Homo sapiens: one gene and its partners. The protein of the gene in region 3 purifies or fractionates together with the protein of the main gene of each other region. This does not show direct contact. Each region holds a gene or a part of one and is shown on either strand. Other genes may lie near its edges.

Region 1 (7,415 bases), on a different chromosome or scaffold from region 3:
TTGAAGCCCAGCACCTGAGGGTGGGAGCAAGGAGGCAATGGCGACAAATGTCTAGGGTTCTTAGGTCTTGTCCTTTCTACCTTCAGTGATCCAGGCACCAACTTCCAACCTCCTGCCCTCATGCCCTCTTGGAGAACTCAGGAACACTGGGCCCAGCTCTCACCTCAATGTTGCCCCCGACTCGGGCCAGCAGTGGAGGCAGTGGCTTATCTTTCTCATTCCGGAGCTGCCTCTTTGACTGTCTACGCCCTGAGGGTGGGGATGACATCAGTTAGCTGAGCCACCACCTCCTCTAAGCCTCAGTCCTCCTTAGCACCCCATTCCCACAAGATACACAACACAGGAACATTCCTGTCACGTTTGAGGTGCTCCCAATTCTCTCCCAAGCACTTCAGAACTACTAACCCACTAAGTCTAAAAGAACCAGTCATATTTTAAAATTAACAGCTGATATCTGACAAAGGCCCAGATTACCAGTGGGAATGGAAAATGATATGGCCTTTCTGGATCTAGCCTATGTGGTCACACACACCGAAGTTTACTAGCAGAGAGACTATGAATATTTCTTCCTTTCTGCTCATCTGCAATCGAGTTTTTCCACACACACACGAAGACTTTTTTACTTGTATAAAAACAGTGGGCTTAAAGCAAACTGGAAAATAAAACGGGAAGAGGTGAGGTAGAGTCAGGAACACAGATGCCACCTTCAGGACGTTCATCGAAGTCTTCATCCTCCTCCTCTGAACCCACCGAGTACTCTGACTGGTTGTCTGTGGGGGTGGAAAGGGCCCAGTGGTCAGGGAGGGCTCTCGGGATATGCCCATGCTGAGGCCCTTTCTGGCTGGATTCCTCCCTGCCGAGACTTGTCTACCTTTATTCTGGCCTTGGTCCTTCTGGGAACACCAGATCACTGCCCAAAGTCTGACTTGGGAGCCGCATATCCTACACCATCTCCATTCACCGCCCACCTTCAGTCTCTGGGCCCCTCTGCTTCTCCTGCAAAACCTACTCTAAGCAATGGCCCTGGGTGTCCACAGGATGCCTGTGCAACCACCGAAGAGTTTAAATCTCCTGCAAACCCACCTGGCCTCTGGGTAGTTCCTAATGACTCTACCTTATGTCTTTCCCTTTTAGCAGAGGAAGGCTCTGACTTCTAGGCTTCTCTCTTTCCCTCTAAATAGCTCCAGCCTTCAAGTCCCTACTCATCATCACTTCCCCCCTTTACTGCCTGCATCTGGGGCAGTCCTCACCTTGGTCTTCCTGAGCAGCATCATTGTAGTTAACTTGCTTGCGAACCCGCTTGCCCTTGCCTAGATTCCGGGCTAGGTCTTCCTGCTGTTGCTCATAGTGATGCCTCAGCAGCTTCTCCCAGTAGTCAGGGTCCACATTCTCCTCCTGCTTGATGATCTCTCGCTCAATTTCCTCAATCTGAAGGGCAACAGAATGAATGAACACTGGGGGTCTCCTTCTTTGCTAATCCTTCCACTGCAAGGAAATCCCTACTCTGCTGCGTCAGCCCAATCCGGTCTCCCCACTCCTGCAGCTTCGTGGCTCTGCATACATTTTCTGGACATTGCGCATGTTCCATGCCATCTCTTACCTGCAATGTGCTCTCCTCATGTTTTCTAAATCTCTCCTCTAATCCCTCTGACAGTGTTTCTCCTGCACTGTCTCAGAAGGTACCCTTCTGTGTTTACCAGTACTGTCTGTGCCTACGTTTCTCTCTGAAGTCCAGTCTCACCTATTAGACGAAGAAGTTGTTTGAGGTCCACTACTGTTTTAAGGGGGACAGACCCTCCTACTTCAAGGCTGAGTAAAGGATACTGCCTTTTGGAGATGGCCTGGGATAGATAATGTCTGGCCCCCAAAGCCTCTCACCTTGTCTTCTTCCCGCACGACGTACTGTGCCACCTTGAAGGAGCTGAGATACTCATTCATGTTCTGCACGTCAGTGTCCTCAGTTGCATCCTGGTTCCGGTCCAACAGCCGAGCGATGGCCTCATTGTCATAATGAATCACACTGCTGTCCTCCTCCTTGTTCTCCCCTGGTGAGAGGGAAAACAAACGGGAACTTTGGGTTCCAAAGTTTAGAAAGGCTGATGGGAAAGCTTCTACTCTGCGTCCTTTTCACAGGAGCCCTAGAGAAGGCTTTTTCCCCGGGAGCCAATGTTGAAAGGTTTTTGTTTTGTTTGTTTTAACCCTACAGGCAAAGAAAGAGGCCAACCTTCCTCCAAGGGCTACTAAAAGAAGGCTCTCCTTCCTTCAAAGGCTGCAGAGAAGAGTTGTTTTTCTCTCCCCAGGGGGCTGATAAGTACTCCTGAGAGAGCAGGGGCCTGCTTTCACAGAGCTGCAGAAAAGGTTCTCACCCTCGTTTTCATCCTTGAATAGCTCTTCAGTGCCAAATTTGAGAATGTCGTCAAGCTCCTGCTTGGACATGGAGCCTGCCTTGGAGCCCAGCCCAGGCCGCACAACCAGGTGTGTCAGCATCATCTTTCTCTTGGCCACTTGTGTGATTCGCTCTTCCACTGACGCGCGAGTCACAAACCGGTAAATCATCACTTTGTTGGCCTGGCCAATCCGATGAGCCCGGCTAAAGGCCTGCAGGGGCAAGAGAAAGTGGCGGGTGGGTCAGGGGAGTGGCCGGGGAGAAGCTGCCCATAGAGCTGCCTCAGGAAAGAAGGCTGCTGAAGAAGGGCCTTCTCTCCTCCCAGAAGAGATTTATTTCTGACCCCGGAACATGACACCCTCCTCCATGAACCCACATCTCCTTGCTAAATGGTGCAGGGGTTCTAGGATGCGAGTTCCCACCTGGATGTCATTATGGGGGTTCCAGTCAGAATCAAAGATGATGACAGTGTCAGCAGTGGCCAGATTGATGCCCAGGCCCCCAGCTCGGGTGGACAGGAGGAAGCAGAATTGTTGGGCCCCAGGAGCTAGGAGGTGAGAGTTGGATCAGGTTTTTCTTGTACCCGGTAGTTCTGTCCACCTGCTCCTAGATGTTCTCTGATGACAAACAACCATGCCCCCAACTCAAAGCCTAAGTTTCCAATGTCCCCCAAGCCAGTCCCCCTCCCATCCCAGGGACCTATCACAGGTTTCTCAGGCCTCCCACACCCACCAGGGACCAGTGTATCTCCCTCACCATTAAACCGATCGATGGCCTCCTGCCTCAGGGCACCCGTGATACCACCATCGATGCGCTCATACTTGTAGCCTTCATAGTCTAAGAAGTCCTCAAGCAAGTCTAACATTTTGGTCATCTAGAGCAAGAGAAAAGGATGGAGTCTGCAATAATGAGGTGGTGGGATGCTTGCTTATTCTAACTACTCCTTTACACAAACTCAACCCTAATCTTTACACCTGAACCCCTGCCCTGTCTTAAGCTCCTCATTATTCCACCTTCTTGTCACACTCTCTTTTCTTATTTTTATTTATTTTTATTTTTTTTTGAGATGGAGTCTCATTCTGTTGCCCTAGCTGGAGTGCAGTGGTGCCATCTCTGCTCACTGCAACCTCCACTCCTGGGTTCAAGTGATCCTACCGCCTCAGCCTCCCTAGTAGCTGGGACTACAGGTGTGCGCCACCACGCCCAGCTAATTTTTGTATTTTAAGTAGAGACAGGGTTTCACCATGTTGGCCAGGCTGGTCTTGAAACTCCTGACCTCAAGTGATCTTCCTGCCTCGGCCTCCCAAAGTGCTGGGATTACAGGTGTGAGCCACCACGTCTGGCCCTCTTGTCACACTCTCTTGATTTAAGATTGTTTCTCCTAAGGCAGAGGTTCTCTGAGACCCATGAAAAGGTTTCAGGGAAATCCAGGAACCCCCTGAAAATCCGTACAAAATTGTGTCATTGTATGTGCAGTTTTCTGGTGAGTAGACCCAGAGCTTTCATCACATTTCCAAAGGGTCTGTGCCCTTCACCCTCACCTGCCAATAAGATGAAGAAATAATACCAGTCCCTAAGGAGGCAGATGGCTCACCCTCCCCCTTCCCTCATGCAGCTGAAAAGGAACTAGAGCTGGACCTCAACTTCCAGCAACCTTAAGAACAGGCATCAGAGGCCAAGAATGAACTTGCTATACAGTAATCCCAGCACTTTGGGAGACCGAGGCGGGCAGATCACCTGAGGTCAGGTGATGGAGACCATCCTGACCAACATGGTGAAATCCCGTCTCTACTAAAAATACAAAAATTAGCTAGGCATGGTGGTGCACGCCTGTAATCCCAGCTACTTGGGAGGCTGAGGCAGGAGAATCACTTGAACCCAGGAAGCAGAGGTTGCAGTGAGCCGAGATCGTGCCACTGCACTCCAGCCTGGGCAATAAGAGCGAAACTCTGTCTCAAAAAAAAAAAAAAAAAAAAAAACTCTTACAGGAGGAATCTCCTCATTTGTCACACCAGAGCAGCCACAGGAAGACCGTAAGAAATTAAAGTCTGGAGGATGAGGAGAGGGAAGAGGAAGCAGATGTAAAGACAGCTAAGGGCACAGGTCACCTGCGAGAAGATGAGCACTCGGTGTCCTTGCTCCTTCAGCTTTCGCAGCATCTTCTGGAGCAGCATGAGCTTCCCAGACGACTTAATAAGTGCCCCACCCTCATAAGCCCCACTGGGGAGTTTGGGGGACTCCTGAAAAGGGAGGAGAGAGGAGGAGGAGGGGGTCAGTTGGAAACATGCCCCCATATTCTTGCCACACCTAGAAGGCCAGATGCCCGGATCCAGCTTCCACATGTTCCCAATTCCTCCTGTTCTCAGACACCCAGTCCGTGGCCTTCCAGCCCAGCTCCACCCCTGTGGCTCAATACCCACCTCCCCACTACTCCCCACCCATGTTTTCTGAGAATGGGCGTTCGATCAGCTCCCTGCTCTGTGTATCTACCATAGCAGCCACGGGAAAAAGGTATGGATGGTTGCAGCACTTCTTAAGATCCATCATGATATTAAGCAGCGACACCTGGTTCCCACCACCTCGTGAATTCAAGGCCTCAAAATTTCGAGTCAGGATGTATTTGTAGTATTTCCTAAAGGCCAGGAAAGGGGTGTAAAAGAAACATAAATAAAGGAAGCAATTATGATATTGCACTTGGAACGCTCCCATCAATCCCCAAGCCCTACTCCAGGCAGCTCGTCTTGCATCTTACTTCTGCATGGGGCTTAGCTCCACCCGAACGATGAGCTCTGTCTTGGCTGGCATGTTCTTAAAGACATCTGCCTTGAGTCTCCGCAGCATGTGTGGCCCCAGCAAATCATGCAGTTTCTTGATCTGGTCCTCTTTGGATATGTCAGCAAACTCCTCCAGGAAGCCCTCCAAGTTGCTAAGAGCCAGAAGAGAAGAAAATTAACAGGTCGGCAAGTTCCTTGCCCCTGATCTCAGACTTACCACCTCAGATTAATCCTCTACCAGCTCATTTTATCTGCTCCACCTCTCATCTCTGCCAACTACCCTTAGGGAACCACTTACTTAAATCTCTCTGGGGTGAGGAAGTTCAGGAGATGGAAGAGCTCCTCCAGATTATTCTGCAATGGGGTTCCTGTCAGCAGCAACTTATGATCTATCTTGTAACCATTGAGAACCCTGAAAAACTAAAAGATGGGGCAAGGCAAGGCAGGAAAATGGGCTTATTAGTGACAAGTGACCGACCCACAGCATCAGCCTTTCCCTGCCCCAGCTCCCATTTCACTCAGGATCAGAGGCCCCAAATCTCTGGCCCTCTCCCTCTTCCAACCTGGACGTCCTCCCAGACTACAGAAAATCCCCAGAATTTTTGTTGTTTTTTAGGACCAAGGCAAGTGGGAAGTCCACAACTTCAAGTTTTTTAGGTCTGGAAACCTCACTCACCTTGGACTGGTTGTTCTTGAGTCGATGGGCCTCATCTACCACAAGACAGGCCCAGCGGATGGAACCAAGTGCTGCCTGATCAATGGTGATCAGCTCATACGATGTCAGGAGAACATGGAACTTCACCTGTGCCTCCCTCTGCCAACATAATTATTGCCCATTCAGCTGCCACCTGACAACCATGCACCTACACCTCCAGAACCAGACACCTTGTCCTGACTGTGGCTCCCAACAGGAGCCATTACTCTGTTCTCCAAGCAGGGATTACAGACCATGGCTCCTAAACCTCTGCCCACATTTCCAGTACCGACAGATCCATGTATGCCCCTGGGAGTACCTGCCATATCTCTAGGATGGTAGTGCAGAGACAGGAGGACAGGTGGAGGAAGAGGAGAAAGGTGAGGAGGGGAATAGAGAAACTGAATTCCTGGCTGAGAAAAAGAAGTGACAGCTTTGAGGGTCTCAGAGGATATGAGGTAGAGGGTCTTACCTTCATCTTAAAAGCTTTCTTGCCCCCTTTGATGGCATTGTCCTCAAAGGAGAATTCATTCTCACGAATGATGGCCCGGCTGTCCTTGTCACCCGTGTATGTCACCACATAGAATTTGGGTGCCCACATCTGGAACTCCCGCTCCCAGTTAATGATGGTAGAGAGTGGGGCACTCACCAGGAAGGGACCTTTTGTGTGGCCCTGGGAGTCAAGAATGGGGGCAGCATAAGTCTAGGCTAGAGGCCGTATACCCTAGTCCTCTGCCAGCTACACCCCTTTATCTTCCCCCTCCCCACTTCCCCAGTCCAGGCGGTCCCCTTCAAGGTCCTAGAATCCAGCACCTCCTTGTAGAGTGAGTAGAGGAAGACGATGGTTTGTATGGTCTTGCCTAGCCCCATCTCATCAGCTAGAATGGTGTCAGTGCCCTGGGCCCAGGAGAAGCGTAGCCAGTTCAGCCCTTCCAACTGATACATGTGCAGGGTGCCTCCAGTGGCTGTGATAAACCGTGGCTGAGTCTCATATTTCACGGTAGGCTATAGAGACAAGAAGTCAGAAAGCTCAAGGAAATAGTCGGCGGCTCCTCCAGTCTTAGTCTCTTCCTCCCTGGCATGGATACCAAGTTGGATTACAATTCCCTCTACTATGGCCTGAGTTTACAAAAGTTCTCACATCTAGTCTTCAGCCCCTCCCCCTCATTCCTTAAGACAATATCCAGCAGCACCATGGGGAAGGGCCAGCTGGTGACAGAGCCACCAGTGGGCTATCTCTAGTGGCTCCTGCCCTTTCAGGCCAAAATTCTTAGCCACTCTTGGGGCAAGACTGGATGCTGAAGGAAGAGCTACTGTTCACAGAGGTTACTGAATCTCTGGGAAGTTCCATCAGTAGCCCTTGGAAAATCTTCGATCACCATCACTCCAGAAACAAGAAATGACAACTGAGAGGACTCACATCATTAGTGGGAGAACTGGGAGGCCCATCACCCTGTAGCTCCTTCTTCTTCTTCTTATACTTGCGGGGCTGGGCAGGGTCTTCCCCCATAATTAGTTCTCTGGAAAAAGAGTGGGTCTGAATGAGGCCTCATCCTTGGGA
Region 2 (7,415 bases), about 84 Mb from region 3:
TGGTGGTGTGTGCCTGTAATCCCAGCTACTCGGGAGGCTGAGGTGGGAGAATCACTTGAACCCGAGAGCTGGAGGTGGCAGTGAGCCAAGATCGCACCACTGCACTCCAGCCTGAATGACAGAGCGAGACTTGGTCACCAAAAAAAAAAAAAAAAAAAAAGGCCGGGCGCAGTGGCTCACGTCTGTAATCCCAGCACTTCGGGAGGCTGAGGCAGGTGGATCACAAGGTCAGGAGATTGAGGCCATCCTGGCTAACATGGTGAAACCCCGTCTCTACTAAAAAAATACAAAAAATTAGCCGGGCATAGTGGCGGGCACCTGTAGTCCCAGCTACTCGGGAGGCTGAGGCAAGAGAATGGCGTGAACCTGGGAGGCGGAGCTTGCAGTGAGCCGAGATCGTGCCACTGCACTCCAGCCTGGGTGACAGAGGGAGACTCTGTCTCAAAAAAAAAAAAAAAAATTAGCCGGGTGTGGTGGTGGGTGCCTGTAGTCCCAGCCACTTGGGAGGCTGAGGCAGGAGAATCGCTTGAACCCGGGAGGCGGAGGTTGCAGCGAGCCGAGATCGTGCCACCGCACTCCAGCCTGGGCGACAGAGCAAGACTTCATCTCCAAAAAACAAAAAGTGCTGCTCCAGTGAACACAAGCCTGATAAGACAGCTGAACGGCCTTAGTACTGATAGAGAGAAAGCTGAAGTGCCGGGATGGGAAATCAAAGCGGACACATTCCCCGAAGCCAGAGCCCCAGCCTGAGCGAGGCCCTAACTCCCTTCAGTTCTACGAAGGCTGAGGGAGGTGAGGAGGCTGCAGAAGAAAAATCTGAAGCTAGCAGAAGTTGGCCCATGAAGTTCAAGGAAAGAAGCCATTTCTACCACATAAAAGTGCAAGGTGAGGCTGGGCACAATGGCTCATGCCTGTAATCCCAGCATTTTGGGAGTCAAGGCAGGAGGATCACTTGAGGCCAGGGGTTTGAGACTAGTGTGGGCAACATAGTGAGACCCCATCTCTACAAAAATAAATAAAACTAGCCAGGCATGGTGGCGTATGCCTGTAGTCCTAGCTACTCGGGAGGCTGAAGTGGGGAGGATCACTTGAGCCCAAGAGACTGAGGCTACATACAGTGAGCCAAGATCATACCACTGCACTCCAGCCTGGGCAACAGAGCAAGATGTTGTCTCAAAAAAAGAAAAAAAAAAAAGAAACACTTCTTTTTGGTTTCTGTAGAAATTAACAAGCCAATTCTAAACTCTGTAAGGGAAAGCCAAGTAACCAGAACAGGCTAAACAATTTTGAAAATGAGGAACAAAGTTCAAGGATTCCTACTACTTGATTTCAAGAATTACTATAAGGCTGGGCATGGTGGCTCACTCCTGTTACCTCAGCACTATGGGAGTCCGAAGTGGGAGGATCGCTTGAGCCCAGGAGTTCGAGACCAGCCTAGACAACATAACGAAAAACTTAGCTGGGTGTGGTGGTGCACACCTGTGGTCCCGGCTGTTCAGGAGGCTGAGGTGGAAGGATCACTTGAGCCTGGGAGGTGGAGGCTGCAGTGAGTCATGGCTGTACCACTGCACTCCAACCTGGGTGACAGACTGAGACCTTATCTCAAAAAAAAAGAAAGACGCCAGACTCAAAAGCCCACATGCTGTGCAATTCCACTTCTACCACATTCTGGACAAGGCAAAACGGCAGGAACAGAAAATAGGTCAGTGTTGCTGGGAGCTGGGGGAGAAGAGGGGGCTGACTACAGAAGGTCACAAGAGAAGCATGTCAGGTGTGGAAGAGCTGCAGCGACCACACAGCTGTGCATGAGTGGAAAACCACAGGCCCCTACACATAAGTGGGTTTGCCATGTGAAACGTGTATCTCAATAAACCTAACTTTTTTTTTTTTTTTTTTTGAGAGAGTCTCACTCTGTTGCCCAGGCTGGGGTACAGTGGTGCGATCTCCACTCACTGCAACCTCTGCGTCCTGCACGCAAGTGATTCTCATGCCTCGGCCTCCCAAGTAGCTAGGATTACAGGCACGCACCACCACGCCTGGCTTTTTTTGTATTTTTAGTAGAGATGGGGTTTTGCTGTGTGGTCAGGTTGGTCTCAAACTCCTGAGCTCAAGTGATCTGCCCACCTCAGCCTCCCAAAGTGTTGGGATTACAGGTGTGAGCCACCATGCCCGGCCTAAACCTTACTTTAAGTTAAAAAAATATACACGCACCCAGAGTCAATTCTCATTGTTTGCAGTAATTACGTTCCATAAAGTCACCACTAATACTGAACACCGTACCTCTGTTCCTACAGGAAATACAGGGTCAGGTTCCTACGAGCCTCTGGTCACAACATTTTCAGCAACCAATCAATACGCAACAGCCTTATTTTACGTTTCTGTCAAAGAACTTTATAATTATTATTGTTCTCCGACACTGAACTCACGTGGGGCAGAGCCTGTCCAACACACGTTCTCTCCATGGGACCCATCCCAGCCTGCCTGTGTCCAGGGACACTCAACAGCACTGCGGCACCTCCCCCAGGGGCATCTAAAAAGCAAAATCACCAAGAGCCCCCAAATGCAAGAAGCATGGCCCTCAGTAGATGGAGAAAGGACAATTTGCTTCCAACATGGGAGCAGTGGCAGAGGGCAGGGTGCCTCGCTCACCCCAGCAGGCACCCAAGCACCACGCAACTTGGGCTTTTAGCAGCCTGTGCGTGCCCGCAAATGACTGGGAAAGTGACATAAGTGTGAATTTTGGGGTTACACGTAAGTTTTAACAAATAGGGGATGGGGCCACAGAAGAATTGGGGGAGAACAGACACAACCCCCAAGATCATTGAGCAACAAGAGCTGTGCGGCAGGGCGGTGCCCGTGGTCCCTGCCTGTCCGGGACCCTCCAGGGCACAGCCCACTCTCCTGAGCTCACCCACAGCCAGGTCTGCCATGGTCAGAGACAGGAGACCAGGGAGCACAGAGAGGAACTTTGTCTTTTCCCTTTTGGGAACAGAGTCAAGAGAAACAGCAACAGTGGTCAGGAAAGCCCCCAGCACCCCTGCTCCAGGAGCCGGGTCTCCATGTGACAACGTCCCAAATGCTGCAGGGGTGTCCTGTATTTTTATCTGCAAAACCTGGGCACTGCTGCAAGCCTCGCGCCCGGCCCATCCTTGGGGTCATCCTCCTCCGTTGCTGTCCCCACAAAGTCCAAGAAGGATCGGAGACCAGAGCCCCAGCATCCGAGGTGCATCCGGCAGTCAAGGGATGGGGACAGCGGCCCCCAGGGGATGCAGACAGACGTTCCCTCATGCAAGTGGCCAGATGGCCCAGGCACTGTGTCTCCTGGAGGAATGGGACAGAACACGCCCCTCCCTCAGAACTGCCCTAGCCCAGCCCAGAGAACGCCACACCTCAGGGCCAGCCCCCACGTGCGCTGCGCCCTTGCTGTCCTCTGAAGGCAGGGGATGAGCCAGGGCAGAATCAGGTGTGCCCCATACCTGACTCCACCGCTGACCAACTGCACAGGCCTTGAGGCTCTTTTTTTTTTTTTTTTTTTTTGTGAGACGAAGTCTCGCTCTGTCACCCAGGCTGGAGTGCAGTGGCGTGATCTCGGCTCACTGCAACATCCATGGGCTCATTTTTAAGGTATGCTTGGTACCAGGAGCCGCTGCCGCTGCCCTGGTTTCCTCCCCTGTGACGACGCTGCTGTGAGGACAGCCTGGCAGGGCACGGACGGGAAGGGACGCGTGGTCCCCTCCATGCCCCAGGGGTCCCCCAACCGCACAGATCTGCAGACCCTCCTCCTAATGGCACCCACAGAGCTCAGGCCCTGACCGTGAAAGGGCTCTGGGGGCAGGCGGGCACTCGAGCTCCTCAGGCCACCGGGCAGAGAAAGCAGCAAAGCCCACGCCAGGCCGGATCACGGGGCTGCAGTGCTGAGGCCCGCCCCAGGGAGGCTGCCGGGCGGCTCTGAGGAGCGGTCACCTCAGACCCCTCAGGTGCGCTGCATGGCCCAGGCGGGAGCAGCCTAGAGGGTGGTGCAAAGCCCATAGAAGCAAGCCTTGGGGCCTGGGCTCGGGGGTGCCGGGGGCACATTGGTGGGGCGGGTGGGGTATAGGGGCGAGGTGCTGGGTGGCCTTGCACTATGAGGGTGGCCCCAGCCTCCCTGGGCTTGGCTCCATCGCCACCAAGATCCCCCAGTCCGCACACTCAGACATGAGCCCACCGGGACAGGAATGGAGCAGGCCAGCTGGGGTGGGGGTGGGGGTGGAGACACCAGCAACACGAGAGCCCCAGAAAGCAGTGAGCCCAGGTAGCACACGAGGAAAGACATTTGGAGAATATTAAATGCTCTGCCGGGCATGGTAGTTCACAGCCTTGCAAACCCAGCGGCACTTTGGGAGCCCAAGGCAAGAGGATCGCTTGAGGACGGGAGTTCGAGACCAGCCTGGGCAACATAGTGAGACTCCGCCTCTATAAAAAATCTTAAAATTAGCTGGGTATGGTGGTGTGCACCTGTGGTCTCAGCTACTCAGGAAGCTGAGATGGGAGGATCGCCTGAGCCTGTGGGGTGGAGGCTGCAGTAGCTGTGATGGTGCCACTGCACTCCAGCCTGGGCAACAGGAGACCCTGTCTCAAAAAAAACATAATTACATGCTCCCAAGACAGCCTGCTGGAGTCTAAGGTAGGGTCTAAGCTGCCCCCCAACCAGGTCTCAGGGTGGGCTCCTCCTGGGGAAGGGGGGCCACCCTCCCTAGCAGGACTCAGCCCATAATCTGGCAAGAGCACTCCAAGTTCAGCAGGAGGAGGAAGGAGGCCCTGCAGCCAGTGCTCCCCCAAGCCGCCTCCCGGGTACCTGGCCAGGCACACGGCACCTCCTCTGGCATCCCAGCCTCACCTGCTGACCAGCGTCCAGATGCGCAGCTGGGGACCCACCTCTAGGTAGGATGCCTGCAGGGCCACTGCAGCAGTTTTGACACCCAGAACCCACACACACGGGCGGGAACGGCACTGCCAGGGCGGGTCGGGCGCGAGGGATGTGCTTCATTGGACCATATATTCCAACATCTCTCACTGACAGCTACTTTTTTATTATTCTGAGAGCTTAACGATCAAATTCTCCACTCAGAACAATATGGGGCCAGGCACCGTGGCTCACGCCTGTAATCCCAGCACTTTGGGAGGCCGAGGCGGGTGGATCACTTGAGGTCAGGAGTTCGAGACCAGCCTGGCCTAGATGGTGAAACCCTGTCTCTACTAAAAACACAAAAACTAGCCAGGTGTGGTGGTGCACACCTGTAATCCCAGCTACTCAGGGGGCTGAGGCAGGCAAATCACTAGAACCCAGGAGGCGGAGGTTGCAGTGAGCCGCGATTGTGCCACTGCACTCCAGCCTGGGTGACAGAGTGAGACTGTCTCAAAAACAAAAAAAAAAGCCAGACGCAGTGGCTCACGCCTGTAATCCCAATACTTTGAGAGGCTGAGGCGGGTGGGTCACAAGGTCAGGAGATCGAGACCATACTGGCTAACACAGTGAAACCCCGTCTCTACAAAAAAAAAAAAATTACAAAACATTAGCCAGGCATGGTGGCGGGCGCCTGTAGTCCCAGCTACTTGGGAGGCTGAGGCAGGAGAATGGTGTGAACCCGGGAGGCGGACTTGCAGTGAGCCCAGATTGCGCTACTGCACTCCAGCCTGGGGGACAGAGCGAGACTCCGTCTCAAAAAAACAAAGGTGGAGCAAGCCAGGAGTGCTCAGTGGCTGAGGCAGGAGAAGCTCAGTGGCCCATCCTGCCTGGAGAGTGAGCCAGGGCTGCCAATGGCGCAGTGCTGAGGCCGATCCTCACAGGCCAAGTGGGACAGCCCCATGCCATCCCCTCCAGGACATCACACCTGGGCCCCTGCCACTTCTACCACTCCCGCTCCTGGTGCTCACAGGACGGCCGTGTCTCCAGGGCTCTTCCCTGCCTTCTTGGAAAAGATGGGTGGGACCCCAAAAGTCGGCCCATGGAGCAGCAAGTGCCTAGGGACACGGTGCACTCAGCACTCCAGGGTAGGGCGGCGCTGGCTGCAGCCCTCTACAAATCTGACATTTTTTTTAAGTTTACTTTTTTCCCCACTGGCAAGTATATAGAGCAATAAAGTTTAAACTTCAAAAAAACACTAGAATAAAAATACAAAAGCAACATTTCTAACAGCGCGCCAGAGCGCAGATGATGGCACATGCCAAGCCCAGTGAAGACCAGCAGCACGGACAGGGTGCTTCCGCCCAGGCTGCGCCAGAGACCGGGGCAGAGCCCGCGGCCCTGCAGGGGCAGGGGCTTTCTGGCATCCTTTCAAACTACATTAAAATTTTTTTTTTTTGATACGGAGTCTCACTCTGTCACCCAGCCTCAACTTTTATTAAAATTAAAACAAAAAGGCCGGGCATGAGCTCACGCCTGTAATCCCAGCACTTTCGGAGGCCGAAGCGGGTGGATCACTTGAGGTCAGGAGTTCCAGACCAGCCTGACCAACATGGAGAAACGCCGTCTCTACTAAAAATGTAAAACTTAACCAGGCCTGGTGGCGCCTGGCTAGTCCCAGCTACTTGGGAGGCTGAGGCAGGAAATCGCTTGGGCCGGGGAGGCGGAGGTTGCAGTGAGCCGAAATCGCGCCTCTGCACTCCAGCTTGGGCCACAGAGCAAGACTCCATCTCAAAAAAAAAAAAAAAAAAAAAATTAAACAAAAAAAATCCAAAAGATGGGGTGTTAACCTCTTGCAATGAAAAACAGAAACACCCAAGGCAAAATGGTAATGGCCTGTCCACTGAAAAGCAGAAGCCCCACATGAGCAAGCTGCAGGCGGCTGGCAGGCACCGATTCCTGCTGTCCTGTTTTGGATGCTATCTAACATCTTCATGTTCAACCCAGAGAAGAAACATCCCGCCGTTGCCCTGGGGCCCTCTCATCCCACAGCAGGTTTCAAGCCTTCCCCAGCCCTCGGGATGGACAACCCTTGAGAAGCAGAGGTCAGGGAACCCTGACCCCGCCACCCTTGCCCAGGCCATCCGCTGCCCTCACAGGCACAGACAGAAGGCCTCTGTCCGTGGCCAGGGCACTCCATGGGGAAGAAACAGGCCCTGTTCCCTCCCTGCTCACCACTTCACCCAGCTCAGCTGGCACAAAAATACTGCCACCACACCTTCACCCTGCCTAGCCCAACCTGGCAGGGCCTCGGAGTAGCCTGCCAGCTAAAATACGGGTTGCCCAGATAACTGTGAATGTCAGATAAGAATCTTCTGGGACAAGTATGTCCCATGCCATATTTGGGACATACTTACACTAATAAATTTCTGTTTATCTGAAACTCAAATTTGCCTGGGCGTCCTGTACTTTTCTTAACTAAATTTGGTGCCTCTACACACAAGGTCCCTGGGGTGGGGGGGCACAGGAGCAA
Region 3 (7,659 bases):
TTCCCACTCTTTTAACCTCAATCATTTGGATTCCCAGTTTCCTCTTACCCACCATTAGGGGAGAAATGTTCAAAGCCAGAGAAAGCCAATCAGTTTCATTCTAGGACCTCTTCTTTTCTCTCCTGCCCCATTATTTTCCCTTAAGTGCCACTGACCAGGATAGGCAGTGGAAAAATTAGTTGGCAGCTAGCTATTCGTGCTTTCTTCCCTGCCCCCATACCTCCTGCAGCTCTTGATAGTGCAGACTCTGGCTCCTGCAGCATCCTGGTTTCCTCTGGCTCAGCAAGAATAGGGCGTGCACTGAGACCAGCACTCCCCCTAGGGTGAAGGCCTCAGCACTGAGTTCCAGCACCAGCAAGCCAGCATGCTGCAGGTAGACAGGGCTGAGAATGCAGGGACCCCGCACCTGTTTGCCCCTGCCCTTTTCCCTTCCCACCTCCTCTTGCCTCCTTATCCTCCCACCTTCTCCTTCATTGACCAGTACCTGGGAGGAGGCAGTTGGGGCAGGCCCCAAGGCTGTCTTCATCACCTCGACCACCACCACTATGAAACCCAAGATCAAGTTGAAGGTGTTGAATATCATCATGGCCCGCACCTGCCAGTGAGCCAGCTCAGCCCTGCCCAGCCTAGGGGAGTCATTCCAACCTCAATCCCCACTTGCAGCCTAGCTGAAGACAAAACTCAGCTTCTGCTTCTCAGCCTCCAAACAGGGCCATAAGCCCTCTTAACTTTTTTGCTTTCCTCCTCAGTGATTGAGGCCAGTCAGTGGTGACAGCTGAGAGAATGAGTCAACACTTAGCCACTTACTTCCTAGGCTGAGGGTTGTAGGTGTCTGTTTTAGGGAGTGGGAGGACAGTGCTGCGTTTTCTTCCCTCTCACCTTCCAAAGGCGGGGTGCTCTGCGAAGCTCCAGAGTGACAGTCCCAGTGAGGAGACCCTGAATGGTGAGAAGGGCAAGTGTTGAGCTCTGGTCCCGTTAGGAAGGGGCCCTGGGACCTTCCACCCTCCCTTGTGGTGGGTCTTACTGAGGCTCCAGGCCCAAGAGGCAGCGCTGTGGCCATGTGACAATCAGAGTTCAGGCAGGCGACTGAGACAGCAAGGGGCACCACAACCACTGCCAGCCATAGCTGGCTCACCTGGGGGTAAGGGTAGGGTAATTGGGGAGGAACTGTCAGGGATTCCCTCCCTTCTCGTAACTCCTACCTCTTTAGAGATCAGGAAATGGGATTGAATGCAGGGTGGAGGAAAGCAGTCAACCCAGAGCAAGGACGTGATCATTAAAAATTAAGTATCATTTAATTTTTTCTGCCTCATATTGTAGTTTAGTTACTTACCTGTATGTTTTCCCCCACAAGATGGAAGCTACTTGGGAGATTAAGGGTCTTGCCTTGTTTATTTCTATGTTTTCCTCTACCCTCCTCCCATTCAGAACCTAGCTCAGTTTCTGGCACATGGTAGGTGCTCACTTAACATGGATGGATGGATGGATGGAATTGAATTGGGTAGAAGTGGACATGCTGAGACCTGGGATGGGGTAGCCTGGCCTCACCGCTAGCACCAAGAGGTGCCCACTCTGCCTGTGCCTTGCCCAGTGTTGTAGCTTTTCCAGACGAAGGCTGTGTCTCTCCTGCTCTTGCTCACCAGCTCTATCTTCCATGGCTCCTTTGCCCACAAGAATTAGGTGCTTCCTAGGCTGGGAAAAATGCGTTATAGGTTCTGTCTATTAGGAGACAGGACATGCAACAACGTATCTTTCAGCTACACCTCTGCCCACTCCCAATATCCAGGGATTTGAGGTCCAGGTCCTCACACCTACCTAGTCTGAAGCAGCTACTCCAAAGGGATGGGACCCAGCTGGGTCCTAGGTCTCCTAAGGGGCTTGATAGCTCAGAGCAGACGACAAACTTGTCCTGGCAGAGGAAGGCTGTCAGGGATGGGGTGTGGTGGGGCAAAGGTTTCTATGAAGGCCTAAGGATCTAGGGAGTGGCCCTGGGTAGATACCGGCCTCAGTTCACTCCACAAGATGTCTAGCCCGACCTCACTCTGTTCCCATTTCTCATTACCCTCATTTCTGCCCATCCTGGGTTCCTTTTCTGGTTTCACTTACCTCATCCCCATGGACACTATCACTCTGGACCTCAATTCCCCCTCATTTCCATATGATCTTACTCCTTTCTTTGGCTTCCTCCTCAAATTATGTGCCCTTCCCTAGAGATCCTACTTTCTGTCTGGATTGGTCCCCTGTCATTACTACTTGCAGCTTTGCCCCCAGACCAGGTAAGGTTGAATTCCAGGGGCTTTCTTGCCTCTCACTTTCTGGACAGTCTCCCTTCCTTCTTTCTTGAAGGTTTTACTCTGAACTGAACACTGACTCAATGGATGGGGGGGACCCTGTTTATGGTGGGGATTGTTTTTGATTCAATGATAACCTGCAACTGGACATTATCTATCTATCTATCTATCTATCTCATGGTCCTCAAATAGTGAGTCTTGGGAAGGATGCTATTGCAACAATTAATATTTTTGAGAGAGAAGGTGCCTCATAGCCAGACAGACCTGAGCTGGAATCTTAGCTCTGCTGCTTCTCCATCTGTGTGATCTTGGATACATTATTATTATTATTATTATTATATTATTGAGACAGGGGCTCACTGTCACCCAGGCTGGAGTGCAGTGGCATGATCATGGCTCACTGTAGCCAACACCTTCTGGGCACAAATAATCATCCTGCCTCAGTCTCCCAAGTAGCTGGGATCACAGGCACATGCCACCATGCCTGGCTAATTTTTAAATTTTTTGTAGAGACAGGGTCGTCTCACAATGTTGCCTAAGCTGGTCTCAAACTCCTGGGCTCAAGCCATCCTCCCTGCTTGGCCTCCCAAACTGCTGGGATTACAGGTGTGGGCCACTGTGTCTGTCCTGATAGATATGTTTTTCTACCTATTCGCACCTCAGTTTATTCACTGATAAAAGGGGGCTAACAATATGACTGTGAAGAGTTGTTGATTCAGGGTGGGTGTTTAATAACTATTAGTGGTGCTGATGAGGTCACACCGATAAGTCTGATGCCCATACACTAAAAGTGTTATTCAGAAGGAAGCTGGGGACACATTTCTACAGTCGGAAGCAGAACCAGCTGGGCCCAAATATACTCTATAGATCAAAACAAATCCCAGATCTACCTAGGTGCCCTTGGCAAGTTGCTTAATCTCTCTGTTCCCTTATCTATAAAAGGAAGTTAATAATACCAGTCTCAAGGGGTTGCTTTCAGCATGGAAGAGAGCTTAGCCCAGTACCTGGTACACAAGTGCTCAATGTTAGTGGCTATGATCATCATCACTATTATTATTTCTTGTTGTTGACGATAAGAGGAGACTGCGCCAGAAGACTCTAGAAGTTAGTACGAGGAGGGAGGCAGGGTCCTGGGAGGCAAGTGATCTTTTGTAAGCCACTCCTGCCCCATCAGTGCTGTGCCAACATCGGCGGGTCATTGTATCTACTCTTTTCTTTCCCGGGGAGTGGGAGTCACGTTTTAAAGAGATCCAGAAAACTGCTGTGTGTCTACTCCTCCTCAATTCCCACGTGCATTGATTTTATTTGGTGGCGATGTGAGATGTTGGGCTTGCACTGAGGATCCCCGAGCCTGCAGGCCACTGGGGAAACAGACTTCCTGAAGCCTCATTTTTCTTACTTGTAAATGGGGGCTAATTTAATTATAGAGGGTTATTGGAAAGATTATATACTATTAGATAGGTGAACAGGCATTCAGTAAATATTGACTAAATCTGAGTATACTACTTACCAGTTTGTAGTCTAGACTACAATCGCCTGGAAGGAAGGTACCACTTCTTTCTCATCCCTCACAGCGCTGAGCCCAGTGCCTGGCACTTAGTAAGCACTCAGTAAATATTTGTTGTATTGAAGAGCCATTAAAGTGACTTGAGGAATGGAAAATAGAATTCGAGAGGAAGGCGCAGGAATTGTTTATCAAGAACGGAAAGGACCGAAGAGTAACTTTAATAATGTTTCTTATACGGCCGACATTAACTATCTCTATAATCGCCCCTCCTCCTCCCCCAAAAGAGAGACAGAAATTGTAAGGGAGAGGCTTTGAGATAAAACCCCAGGAAGAACTTCCCGAGTCTGTGCATGTTGGGGCAGAAAGAGCGGCAGAGCCAACTCCTTCCCTGGTATGTCCGGGTTTAGGGAGGGAGGGGCAGTGCTGCTTGGAGGCTGGGGGAAGGACGAGATGACCTTTCAAAATCTCTTCCAGTCTCCTGTTGGAATCCTCTGTGCGCCCCACCCCCGCTCCCTCCCTTCCTCCCTCCCTCCGACAGCGCCCCCCGTCTCCAAACCGCCCGCACCCCGCCCCTGGCGGCCGCCTCTCGCGGCTCCCGGGGTCCCCAGCTCCCTGTCCCCGGAGCCAGAGCCCGGCTCCCGCGCGGCTCCCAGCCCCGCCGCGCCGCCCCCCGCATGCTAATGGCCGGGCCGCCTCCCGCCGCACACAATGCGGGCCAGGGCCGGGGGCGGGGGACCGGGGAGGGGGCGGGGGCCGGGCCGGGGGCGGGGGGGCCGGGGCCCGGCGCATCTCCCCCGGCCCCACGTAACGCTGACGCCCGCGCCGCCGGCCCGCCGCCCGCCGCCGCCGCCGCCGCCGCCGCCCGCTCCGCCGCCGCCCGCCCGGGGCTCGTGAGTAGCCGCTCCCCCGACTCCCGGGCCCCCCCGTCCGCCACCCGGCCCCCGCCCCCGGCCCCCTCCCCCCTCCCGGAGGGGGGGCCCGCTCAGCGCGCCCGGCTCGGAGCAGGTGCAGGGGGCGGGGGCGGGGGAGGGGCGCCGGCTCGGCCCCAAGCAAACTTCGCCCAGAGCTCCTGGGGGGGCGGGGTGGGGGTGGCGGCCTCGGAAGCCTGGAGAGCTGGGGGGCCCCAAGGGAGGGGGGGCCAGGTGGAAGAGCTGGGGGAGCAGACACCAAAGGGAAGGGCCAACGGGGGGGATGTGGCGGGGGAGGTGGCGGGTGTCTTTGTAGGGGCCCGAAGGCAGGGCGCGAGGGACCTGGGGGTGAGGGGCGGCAGAGCCGCGAGCCTGAGTGGATGTGCACCCCCCAACCCCCGGCCCAGGTAGGGCTGGTGGGGGAGGGGGAAGGAGCCCAAACTCTCTGGAAGCACGGGGTGGCGGGGGAGGGGAAAGGATGGGGGGTGCTTCCCTCTTTGCGTCCCAAACAAAGTGTCACAAAGAGCTCGGCCCGCGGCAGCAGCGGAGGCGGCTGTAACTCAGCTTTTGTTCTCCTGGCCGGGGGTAGCTGAGCCTTGGCCTCCCTATCTCCCAACCCTGCCCCCCATCATCCTTCTGGCTTATCTTCCTGGGGAGGGGTCTGGGGTGCTGCTGGAAAAACCTCTCCGGCAGGATAGCAGGTCCTACCCTACTTAGCAATCTATTTCTGGGAGGGGGATTTTCCCAGAGGCTCCCTTGATCGCCCCTACCTCCCAGTCTGAGGACCGAGGCTCACGTGGGTGCTAAGACTGACTTTTCTAGGGTCAGCTCCACTTAAAGGGACTTAGGGCTGGCTACATGCCCCTCTTTCCCAAACCCAGGTCTTCCAGAACTTTCAAAATCAAAATCGGGGTTGCGTTAGGACATGCCTCTGGGATAAGATTCCCCATGGTGGGATGGCAGCAGGTGAGCAGGTGTGCCTTCCTCTCGCCTCCTGCTGTACCTTTGAAGTCCATGGCTGAGGTTCCATGTCCCTAACTCAGGAGAGTGAGGACAGAGGGAAGGAGGCTTTACCAAGATCTCAGTCTAAAAAGGCTGGTGAGCTGCAGAGTGGAGCGGGTTAGGAGGAGCTATCTGAGCAGTGAGGTTCAGAGGGCCATGGAGAGGAGACCATAAAAGTGAACTACTGGTGTGTCTGTGTGATCAAGGTAGTCTTTTGAACGTAGACCGCCCTAGAAGCTCCCTTTCCTTTTAACCCCATCTAGTGCAGTGGTAATCATAATTGTTAGCAGATTTGGGAGGTCTAGGATTCTCAAGAGGGAAAACCATCGTGTTAGAGGTGACCAGAGGCAGTTACAACTGGACCCCAGAAGTCCTGAACCCTTGCTCCTTACACTTTGACCCTAAAAACTTTTGAATCACAAGACTTGAGGGACAGTCTTTGTGGTCCATTTAGCAAATACTTCTATGTACCTGTCCTTGTTGTTTCTAAGTCTTTTCACCAACCATTCCATCCTTCTCTACTGAGTAAGGTTTAGTGGTCCACACCCACTTCCCTACCAGCTGCCCCAGCATGTAAGGATAATTGGCCTACTGCTTTTGAAAGGTTTCTGATATCTATCCCTGGCCCCGCATCCTTATAGAATCCAAATAAGGGCAAGATAACCCCTGATTCCCAGTGGGGGTGGAAAGTAGGTCAGTGCTGCTGTCTGGCCAAGTCTCGAGGATGGTGTTTAAGGCCTGACTATAGAAAACTCTGTGATTATTGTCCAGGGGCAATATATGCATGACCTCGGTTCCAAGGCAGTTCATAGTATCCCAGTCCCTGTCAGTTCTTTCCCCTACTGAGAAAAAAATCATGGGATCAGGTGTCTGGAACCTGGTTTGATATGGAGATGATTCAGATCTTCATTGGGCCTAAGAAGGTATCTCAGTGAGTTTTGTTGATTTTAGGCCACCTTCTGGGGAAACTTTCCGTGCTGGGGAATTCAGCTTCAGTTTGGGCCTTCTTGTATATCACTCTATTTCTGTTCTGGAAACTGCTATGTGCAAAGTGGTTTATTGTTGTTTTGTTTTGGGATAGGAAGCTTTGCCCTTTTCTGACTCTTCTTGCCTCAGATATGAGGCCAGCTTCCTAAGAGATTTTGCTTGCTATCCTACAGACAGTTTTAGGGGCCCTAGAATCTTCTCAGAATGAGAGTATGTGCCCATAGGTTAGTCAGCTATGACCATGCAGTATTCCCAGCCCCCCCGCCCCACGCCTCCACCATCTGCTTCCTCTGAATATACCAGATTGGCTGTACACCAGGATGTTCCGGGAATCCCCAGGAGAGCAACAGAATGTGATGGACCCAAATATGATGCCTCAGTAACTCATTCCAGGATGTACAAACTGTAACTGTCAGGATGCTCCTTATAGCTAATTAAAATTCTTCTAGTTACATCTATTTTCTATTAGCTCTTTCTATTTTCAGTGACATCTAAAAGGCCAAAATAATCCCTCTGGTACCACTGGGTTTTTTTCTATGGTTTTCAGATAGGAACGAAAAAAAAATGCTCTAGCTTTTCTGTGTTGTATCTGCGATGCTAAAATGGCAAACAGCCCCTCTAGCACCTCATAGCTCTATCTATGGTACTGAGGTGGCCCAAGTGGCTTCTGTGGTAGCCCACTGCACTCTCCATGGTACTGAAGGGATGACCATTTGTTTTAACATCTCTCTGGGGTCCAAAAGAGTCCTGTGACTTAGAATCACAAACTTTTTTCGAGCAGGAAGGGACTAACACTATAAATTAGTCCAATCCCCTTATTTTACTGATGAGTAAACTGGGAGGTTAAGTGATTTAGTAAAGGTTGTAGGGTTATCAATGTTCAGACTAGGCCTACAATAGCCTTGTACCCTTCAGTCCTATTCTAATTCACCTTTTGTGACACTATTCAGTAAGCCTGGCTAGG
Region 4 (6,450 bases), on a different chromosome or scaffold from region 3:
CCTCCATCATCCCTTCATTTTTCCATCATCCCTTCATCCCTCCATCATCGCTTCATCCCTATATCCCTTTATCTATCCATCATCCCTTCATCATCCCTACATCCCTTTATCTCTCCATCATCCCTTCATTATCCCTCCATCCCTCCATCTCTCCACCGCTCCATCCCTCCATCGTCCCTCCATCTATCCATCATCCCTTCATCATCCCTCCATCCCTCCATTATCCCTCCCTCATCCCTTCATTCCTCCATCATCCCTCCATCCCTCCATTTCTCCACCCCTCCATTCCTCCATCATCCCTCCATCTCTCCATCATTCCTTCATTATCCCTCCATCCCTCCAACATCCAACCATCATCCTTTCATCATCCCTCCATCTCTCCACTCCGCCATCCCACCATCATCCCTCCATCTCTCCATCATCCCTTCATTATCCCTCCATCCCTCCATCATCCCTCCATCCCTCCATCATCCCTCCATCCCTCCATCTTCCCCCATCCCTCCACCTTCCCTCCATCCCTCCATCTTCGCTCCATTATCCCTACATTATCCCTCCATCCCTCCGTCCTTCCACCCCTCCATTCGTCCGTCCTTCCACCCCTCCATCATCCTTCCATCGCTCCATCATTCCTCCATCCCTCCATCTTCCCTCCATTATCCCTCCATCATCCCTCCATCATCCCTCCATCCTTCCACCCCTCCATCCTTCCACCCCTCCACCCCTCCTCTCCTCCATCCCTCCACCCCTCCACCCCTCCATCCCTCCATCCTTCCATCCCTCCATCCTTCCACTGCTCCACCCCTCCACCCCTCCACCCCTCCATCCCTCCATCCTTCCACTCCTCCATCCCTCCACCCCTCCATCCCTGCATCCTACCATCCCTCCGCCTCCCACCACAGTCCTGAACCAGCTGGAGGAGCTGCTGAGCGACATGAAGGCCGACGTGACCCGGCTGCCATCCATGCTGTCCCGCATCCCCCCGGTGGCCGCCCGGCTGCAGATGTCGGAGCGCAGCATCCTGAGCCGCCTGACCAACCGCGCCGGGGACCCCACCATCCAGCAGGTCAGGCTCGGCCTGTGTGCCCCGGCCCGAGCCCCCTGGCGTGCCCCTGGGTGGAGGCTGGGTGGGGGGCCTGAGACCACCTGTGAAGCTGAGTCCTTGCCTCCAGGGCGCTTTCGGCTCCTCCCAGATGTACAGCAACAACTTTGGGCCCAACTTCCGGGGCCCTGGACCGGGAGGGATTGTCAACTACAACCAGATGCCCCTGGGGCCCTATGTGACCGGTAGGTGCCCGTCCGCTCCGGGCAGCATGCACACGGGTGCCCGCCGGGCCCGGCCTGCCTGCTGCTGCCAACGTCAGGCAAGCCCGGCTCTCCTCTTTTTTTGACAGATATCTAGCCGTCCTCGAGACTTCCCTGTGTTGCAGCGCTCATTTCCAGCTGAGGTGAGGGCTGCTGGGTGCTGTGTTCCTCCCCGCCACCCCATTGCTGGCAAACCAGGCCTGGCCACAGTCAGCCCTGCCCCTGCACTTGACTCCCGTCCCTAAGTCCTGGAGCTTTTACTGCCTCCGGCGGCTTTGAGAGCCACCCACCTGCCTGGAGCCCCTCTACCTTGCCCCCTTGGCCCTGGGACCACCTTGTGGCCAGCGTGTCTGTCCACTGGGAGGCTGGGGTGGCAGGACATGAAGGGGTCGGTGGACTTGGGTGAGCTCCTGTGTGTGCACATGTGTTCTCATTTGCACACATGTTCCCAGCGGAAGTCAGAGACTGCTGCCCCCGCCTGGAGCCCTGTCCTGCCCCTGCTGTCCTGCTGGTGGCAGACATCACATCTTGTCTTACACCCTCACTTCCTGCCCAGGACCAGGAGGGTGGCTGAGGGTTTTGTGGGGGCTATTGGCCAGGAGAGGGGGCTTATTTCAGAGAAACTGCCAGTTCATTCTGGTCTTCTCTGGGGCCACCAGCCTCCACTACGCTGTGTCTGTCCCTGTGGGAACCGTGTCTTGCTGGAGGAGGCTCCAGAGGGGCTTCCTGGCTGGCTGCCCCTGCCCACTGCTGCTTCCTGGGTGCTCTCGGCACTCTGGGTGTAGCTCATGGCCTGGCCCGGCAGCCTGTGGCTGGGAGGTCATGGCTGGGGGGCACCCCGATCATAGTTGGTTGTGATAGGTGGAGAAGCAGCTACAGGCTGTTGGGTGCCACCCTGATGCCCCCTATAACTGCCCACCTGCTTAACCCACTGATTTGCGTTTTGCAGCCACGCCTGCCGGGCCACCTGCCCGACCCACATGGGAGAGAAAAGCTGCCACCTTTTTAGGAGCCAGCGCCACCTTGGGACAAAAAGGGAAACCTAGTAATGCCATCACATGGAGGACGAGGCCCAGCTCAGCTGGGCCAGAGCCCAGAAGTGCCACCTCATCATAATTCAAGTGTTCTTCCACACAGCGTTGCCCCCACAACCACGCCGGACGTGCCCCCTCGCCACCTTTTCCAGACGACTTCTTAGAAGAGATTTCATTTATTTGTACATCTTTTGCACTTTCCTATTGAAGACTTGAACACGTTTGTCTTGATAAAAGTTGGATGACGTATGGAAGATTCGAACCTGCAGCACTGATGTCTCTTTACCGATGGGTTCCAGACCCAAGGTAGTCCTGGCACTGCCCTGTGGACTCAGCCCAGCTGGGGAGGACATGGCGCCCGGTGCCCTAGGAGCCCTCAGTGTCCCCTACCTGACCTGTCTGCACCTGTGTGACAGCCCCTTCTGATTTGGCCCCCTGCCCGCTTGGAGCCTCCCAGCACCAGACAGGGCAGGTTTGGGGAGCCGCTGTCCAGCCCTATGGTGAGACCCTGGCTGACATTTCCCCTCCTTCCTGCCAAGGCTGGAGGCCGCCAGGTGTTTGCTCTCTCCTTGTGGGGAGGTGGATCCTCTGCCAGCAGGTGTCTGTCCCCGGCCCAGCGCATCTTGAAGGCCCTGGACTCTGTTACCAGTGGGGGGCCTGTGGCCCCGGCTCTTCACAGCAGGCAGAAGCGTATGATCCCAGGGAGGGTGGGCTGGGGGGGGGGCAGCACTTGCCTCGGAGCCACTGCTGCGTTGGGTTTGCCTTCTGCCAGAGGTGTGGTTAAGGGCAGTGATAGCTGCGCCCCAGCAAGGAGGGTCATGGGCCCTGAGCTGGCCCAGGAGACCCTGGCCCTGCCCTGTGCCCTGGGATGCCTACCCTGCCCACCTCCGGAGGTGGAACCGGGCTGCCCCTGGGGGCCTGGACTTGTCCCATTCCCCTGTCCCTGGAAAGGCCTTCCCGGGGGCTTTTTGCCTGAGGCTGCACTCTTGGAAGGCGTGGGGAGAGTTCTGCCTGGAGGGGGACTGGACCCAGTGCCCTCTGCAGACCCCTCCCAGCCGCAGCACCAAGGGCTTGCTGCCTTGTTTCCTGCCAGGAGCGCCCTGACATCCCAAAACCATCTTCCCACATGTGGGTTGTTGGAATCCCACCCACTCCCCCGGACCCTGCCCCTCCAAGTTGGGGACGGAGATGGGGAGCAGGTCAGGCCCTCCCTAGGCCTGTTTGTGTGTGATCCTTCTCCTGGCCCCAGGTCGACCTGGAAGGCGTTTCTGAGTCTTGTACTGGGACCTTCCCAGGGAAGGTGCCTTGGGGTGCAGAATCCTGGGAATGTTAGGAAAGGGCTGCGTGAAAAACCCAGCTGGGCCTGGGGTGGAGGTGCACACGGGCTGGGGCTCAGCTCCTTGGAGAGGGCCTGCCTGGGACTGAGGGGGCCAGGGCTGGGTCAGGATTCACCAGCTTGTGTTGCAGACACTGGAGCGATTGCCTGGCCCTCCCTAAGCCCTATATGCCTCACTCATAATGAGGCTGTCTCTGAACCCCGGAGGGCGGGACCTACAAGTCCTTCCTCTTGGCGCATTCCCACACTCCAGTCTGGATCCAGGTCTGCAAGGCCAGCCCGACCCTGACACTGCACGTGGGCGTAGTGGGGAGCACCCTGGAGTGGAGATGATTGTCAGCGGGCTCACATGTTATGGTTCATCCACATGCGTGTTGTGTGCTCTGCGGTGCCTCCTGGCAAAGGGTCCTGGCTCGGGTCAGAAGCTCACTCCCGTGCCCTCGTCCCCAAACAAGCAGTGGCAAGCACTGGGGTTGGCCCTCGTTGGGAGCAGTGCCCACCTTCCTTGGCCCACAGCAGATAGGTCCCGAGCAGCAGGACTGGAGGCCTGTGGCGGTCAGGGCAGGGGTCTGTGTCTCCACCCCAAGGGCTGATGGTCCCTCCCCTGTGCGCCTTCCTCTCAGGCAGGCTTGCTCTGTCCCTTCCTCTCTGCTTCCCTCCCAGGCCTCGCCAGGGCTCCCTTCTCCTCTGCCTGGTTAGACTCGGGCACCCAGGAAAGCCTGGCCAGGGCTCCTTTGGGCCTGGGCCCCCTGCACTGCCTGGTCCAGAAGGGGTGGTGCTGTCCGTGGCCAGCACCCCGGGGCCCGGGAGGGGTGGGCTACTAGAGTCAGAGCGGGTTTGGGGCTGACCAGTTTGGGAGAGGAGAAAAGATCTGAGAATGTCCTTCTTGGTTTGTCAGTCATCTCTGCCAAAAGTGGTGATGGTGGTGTCCGTATGTTTGGCGTCTTTGGGCTGGGTTTGGTTTTTGCTGCTGGTAGAATCAGGGTCCTCGGGCATGAACGCGAGCCCAAAGTGCCAGTCTGCGATTGGAAATTTCCAGCCACTTTAAGCCAGTGCTGAGTAGGGCTTCTGCAGAGCCATGTTTGAGCCAAGGTCTTGGAAGGCATTGCCCCATGGGCTCAGGTGACTCGGGGTGGAGTGAGCACGTCTGCAGGGCCCTCTCATACACGCCTGAGGCAGAAGCAGCGTCCCCCGTGAAAGCCACCTTCCGAAGCTCCTGCGTTTTTTGCAAACTTGGCTTCCCCCAGGGGCAGGCTGGACTTTCCCTGCCCCCTATGATTGAAGTCCTCCTGCTTTTGGGGGCTGCCTTCCCAGAGTCCCCCGGGTGCTCCCCTGCCGAGGTCAGGAGCTGACCAAGCCTTGGCCCGGTGACACCTGCAGCCCTCACTCCTGTCATCCCAGGACACTTGAGGCCCAAGGAGGTGGAGTGGAGAGTGGGCTCGGGTACATGGGAGCCAGAAGCCAGATGGACTTGGTCAAGTGTCGGTCACTTGGAGCCTCCAGTGTGCGTCAGGGTCTGTGGGCAGGGGACAGGGCGTGGGTGGGGGCCGAGGCTGGCACGCCCCTCTGCCCTCACCGTCTTGGTGACCTGGCCTCGGCCCCTCCCCCAAGTCTCTTCTGTGCAAGGCCCGCCTCGGCCTCGGCAGCTGGTTCCTGTCCTGTTTTCTGTGTCTGAAAGTTTACAGGTTGTGGTGCATCAGCCCAAACTCACTGGCGTTGTGTTTTTTTTTTCTTTAATTTTCAGATTTTTTTTTTAAACAAAGTATTTTTTTAGGTGCGATAACCCAGAAAGGGCCCGTTGGGTGTGTGTGTGTGTCCTGAACTCCTCAAGCAGCGATTGGAGCCCAAGCACCCCTGGAGAGGAAGGGAGGGTCCCCACTGGCCCGTGGGGTCTGAGTTCAGGGGTGTGGAGGGAGCAGACTCCACCGGCCCAGGCCCAGCTAAGAGGGGGCCGACCCCTTTCCCCAGGCACAGCCCCAGGCTGGCAAAGGGAGGGCCCTGGGCTGGGTGCAAGGCGCGCCAGGAGTCCCAGCCAGGGTGGCCCCGGCGGGGGCGGGTCCAGCTTTGGAAGCCAGGCTCCCCTGTGAGCCGTGGCTTGTCTGGTCTTCGCCCACGGGAGGCTGGACAGAGGCTGTAGCCAACACAATCACCTTTACTTTGTACTCTGTGTGTATGTTTTGGTTTTCTGTGTTTTAATAAATCCTTTGGGAAAGGATTTAATCAGAGGCTTTTTCTTTTTAAGATTCAAGATTTAGAATGGGGGTGGGGGCTGGGGCCAGGGAGGAGTGGTGGGGGGTGGGGGCGTGTCCGGAAGCCTTCTCTTGCCTGGGATGGTCATTTCACGGGTGCAGGGGCTCACTGGGAAGGAGGGGAGCCCGAAACAGGGGTGTGCTGGGGTGAGGCCCCTCTCACCTGTACCCCAAACACATACCATGAGAGCTTCCCCAGGCCTGGACCTCTGTCCTTATGAGAACAGCAGCCAGCCAGGTCCCCAGAGGGACAGCAGCCTCCCAGCAAGCAGCTTTGGGCCCTCAGAGTTGGTGAAAGAGAATGTGTGTGTTGGGGGCGGCAGGGGAGGCACGCACCCTCCCTTGGCTGAATCGCTTGGGAGAGATGGGGGACAGGTCTTCTGACCACCCTGTCCCCATTCTCTGTCCCCGCTCTCTCTCCACGGGCCCTTTCCAACCCACCTGCCCTTGGCTGCAGGCTCCGGTTTGGGGGATGCCCCAGGCCCTGCTGCTGGCAGCCTTTTCCTCCCCTCCCGTGTCACCCTGGCCC

What was found.
Region 1: the proteins of ZNF219 (region 3) and CHD3 purify together in Homo sapiens (affinity purification with mass spectrometry; 5 studies listed by BioGRID and IntAct, with this or other methods). This does not show direct contact.
Region 2: the proteins of ZNF219 (region 3) and MTA1 purify together in Homo sapiens (affinity purification with mass spectrometry; 3 studies listed by BioGRID and IntAct, with this or other methods). This does not show direct contact.
Region 4: the proteins of ZNF219 (region 3) and CHD5 purify together in Homo sapiens (affinity purification with mass spectrometry; 4 studies listed by BioGRID and IntAct, with this or other methods). This does not show direct contact.

Annotation. Positions count from the first base shown.
Region 1 is NC_000017.11:7,898,455-7,905,869, reverse strand, and holds part of CHD3 (chromodomain-helicase-DNA-binding protein 3), read right to left. Parts: intron 7,375-7,415; coding exon 7,275-7,374; intron 6,860-7,274; coding exon 6,668-6,859; intron 6,528-6,667; coding exon 6,327-6,527; intron 5,975-6,326; coding exon 5,837-5,974; intron 5,581-5,836; coding exon 5,459-5,580; intron 5,313-5,458; coding exon 5,139-5,312; intron 5,019-5,138; coding exon 4,877-5,018; intron 4,627-4,876; coding exon 4,495-4,626; intron 3,261-4,494; coding exon 3,143-3,260; intron 3,004-3,142; coding exon of another isoform or gene 2,993-3,003; exon of another isoform or gene 2,934-2,992; coding exon 2,809-2,933; intron 2,599-2,808; coding exon 2,367-2,598; intron 2,046-2,366; coding exon 1,879-2,045; intron 1,429-1,878; coding exon 1,251-1,428; intron 771-1,250; coding exon 705-770; intron 250-704; coding exon 164-249; intron 15-163; coding exon 1-14.
Region 2 is NC_000014.9:105,422,498-105,429,912, reverse strand, and holds part of MTA1 (metastasis-associated protein MTA1), read right to left. Parts: intron 1-7,415. UniProt on the Homo sapiens protein: Transcriptional coregulator which can act as both a transcriptional corepressor and coactivator. Acts as a component of the histone deacetylase NuRD complex which participates in the remodeling of chromatin.
Region 3 is NC_000014.9:21,095,341-21,102,999, reverse strand, and holds the start of ZNF219 (zinc finger protein 219), read left to right. Parts: upstream 1-4,344; 5' UTR 4,345-4,688; intron 4,689-7,659. Other genes in the region: TMEM253 (transmembrane protein 253), read right to left, coding at 221-367, 485-595, 880-936, 1,025-1,135, 1,549-1,656. UniProt on the Homo sapiens protein: Transcriptional regulator. Recognizes and binds 2 copies of the core DNA sequence motif 5'-GGGGG-3'. Binds to the HMGN1 promoter and may repress HMGN1 expression. Regulates SNCA expression in primary cortical neurons.
Region 4 is NC_000001.11:6,101,229-6,107,678, reverse strand, and holds the end of CHD5 (chromodomain-helicase-DNA-binding protein 5), read left to right. Parts: intron 1-899; coding exon 900-1,063; intron 1,064-1,169; coding exon 1,170-1,284; intron 1,285-1,391; coding exon 1,392-1,399; 3' UTR 1,400-1,445; intron 1,446-2,251; 3' UTR 2,252-5,892; downstream 5,893-6,450. UniProt on the Homo sapiens protein: ATP-dependent chromatin-remodeling factor that binds DNA through histones and regulates gene transcription. May specifically recognize and bind trimethylated 'Lys-27' (H3K27me3) and non-methylated 'Lys-4' of histone H3.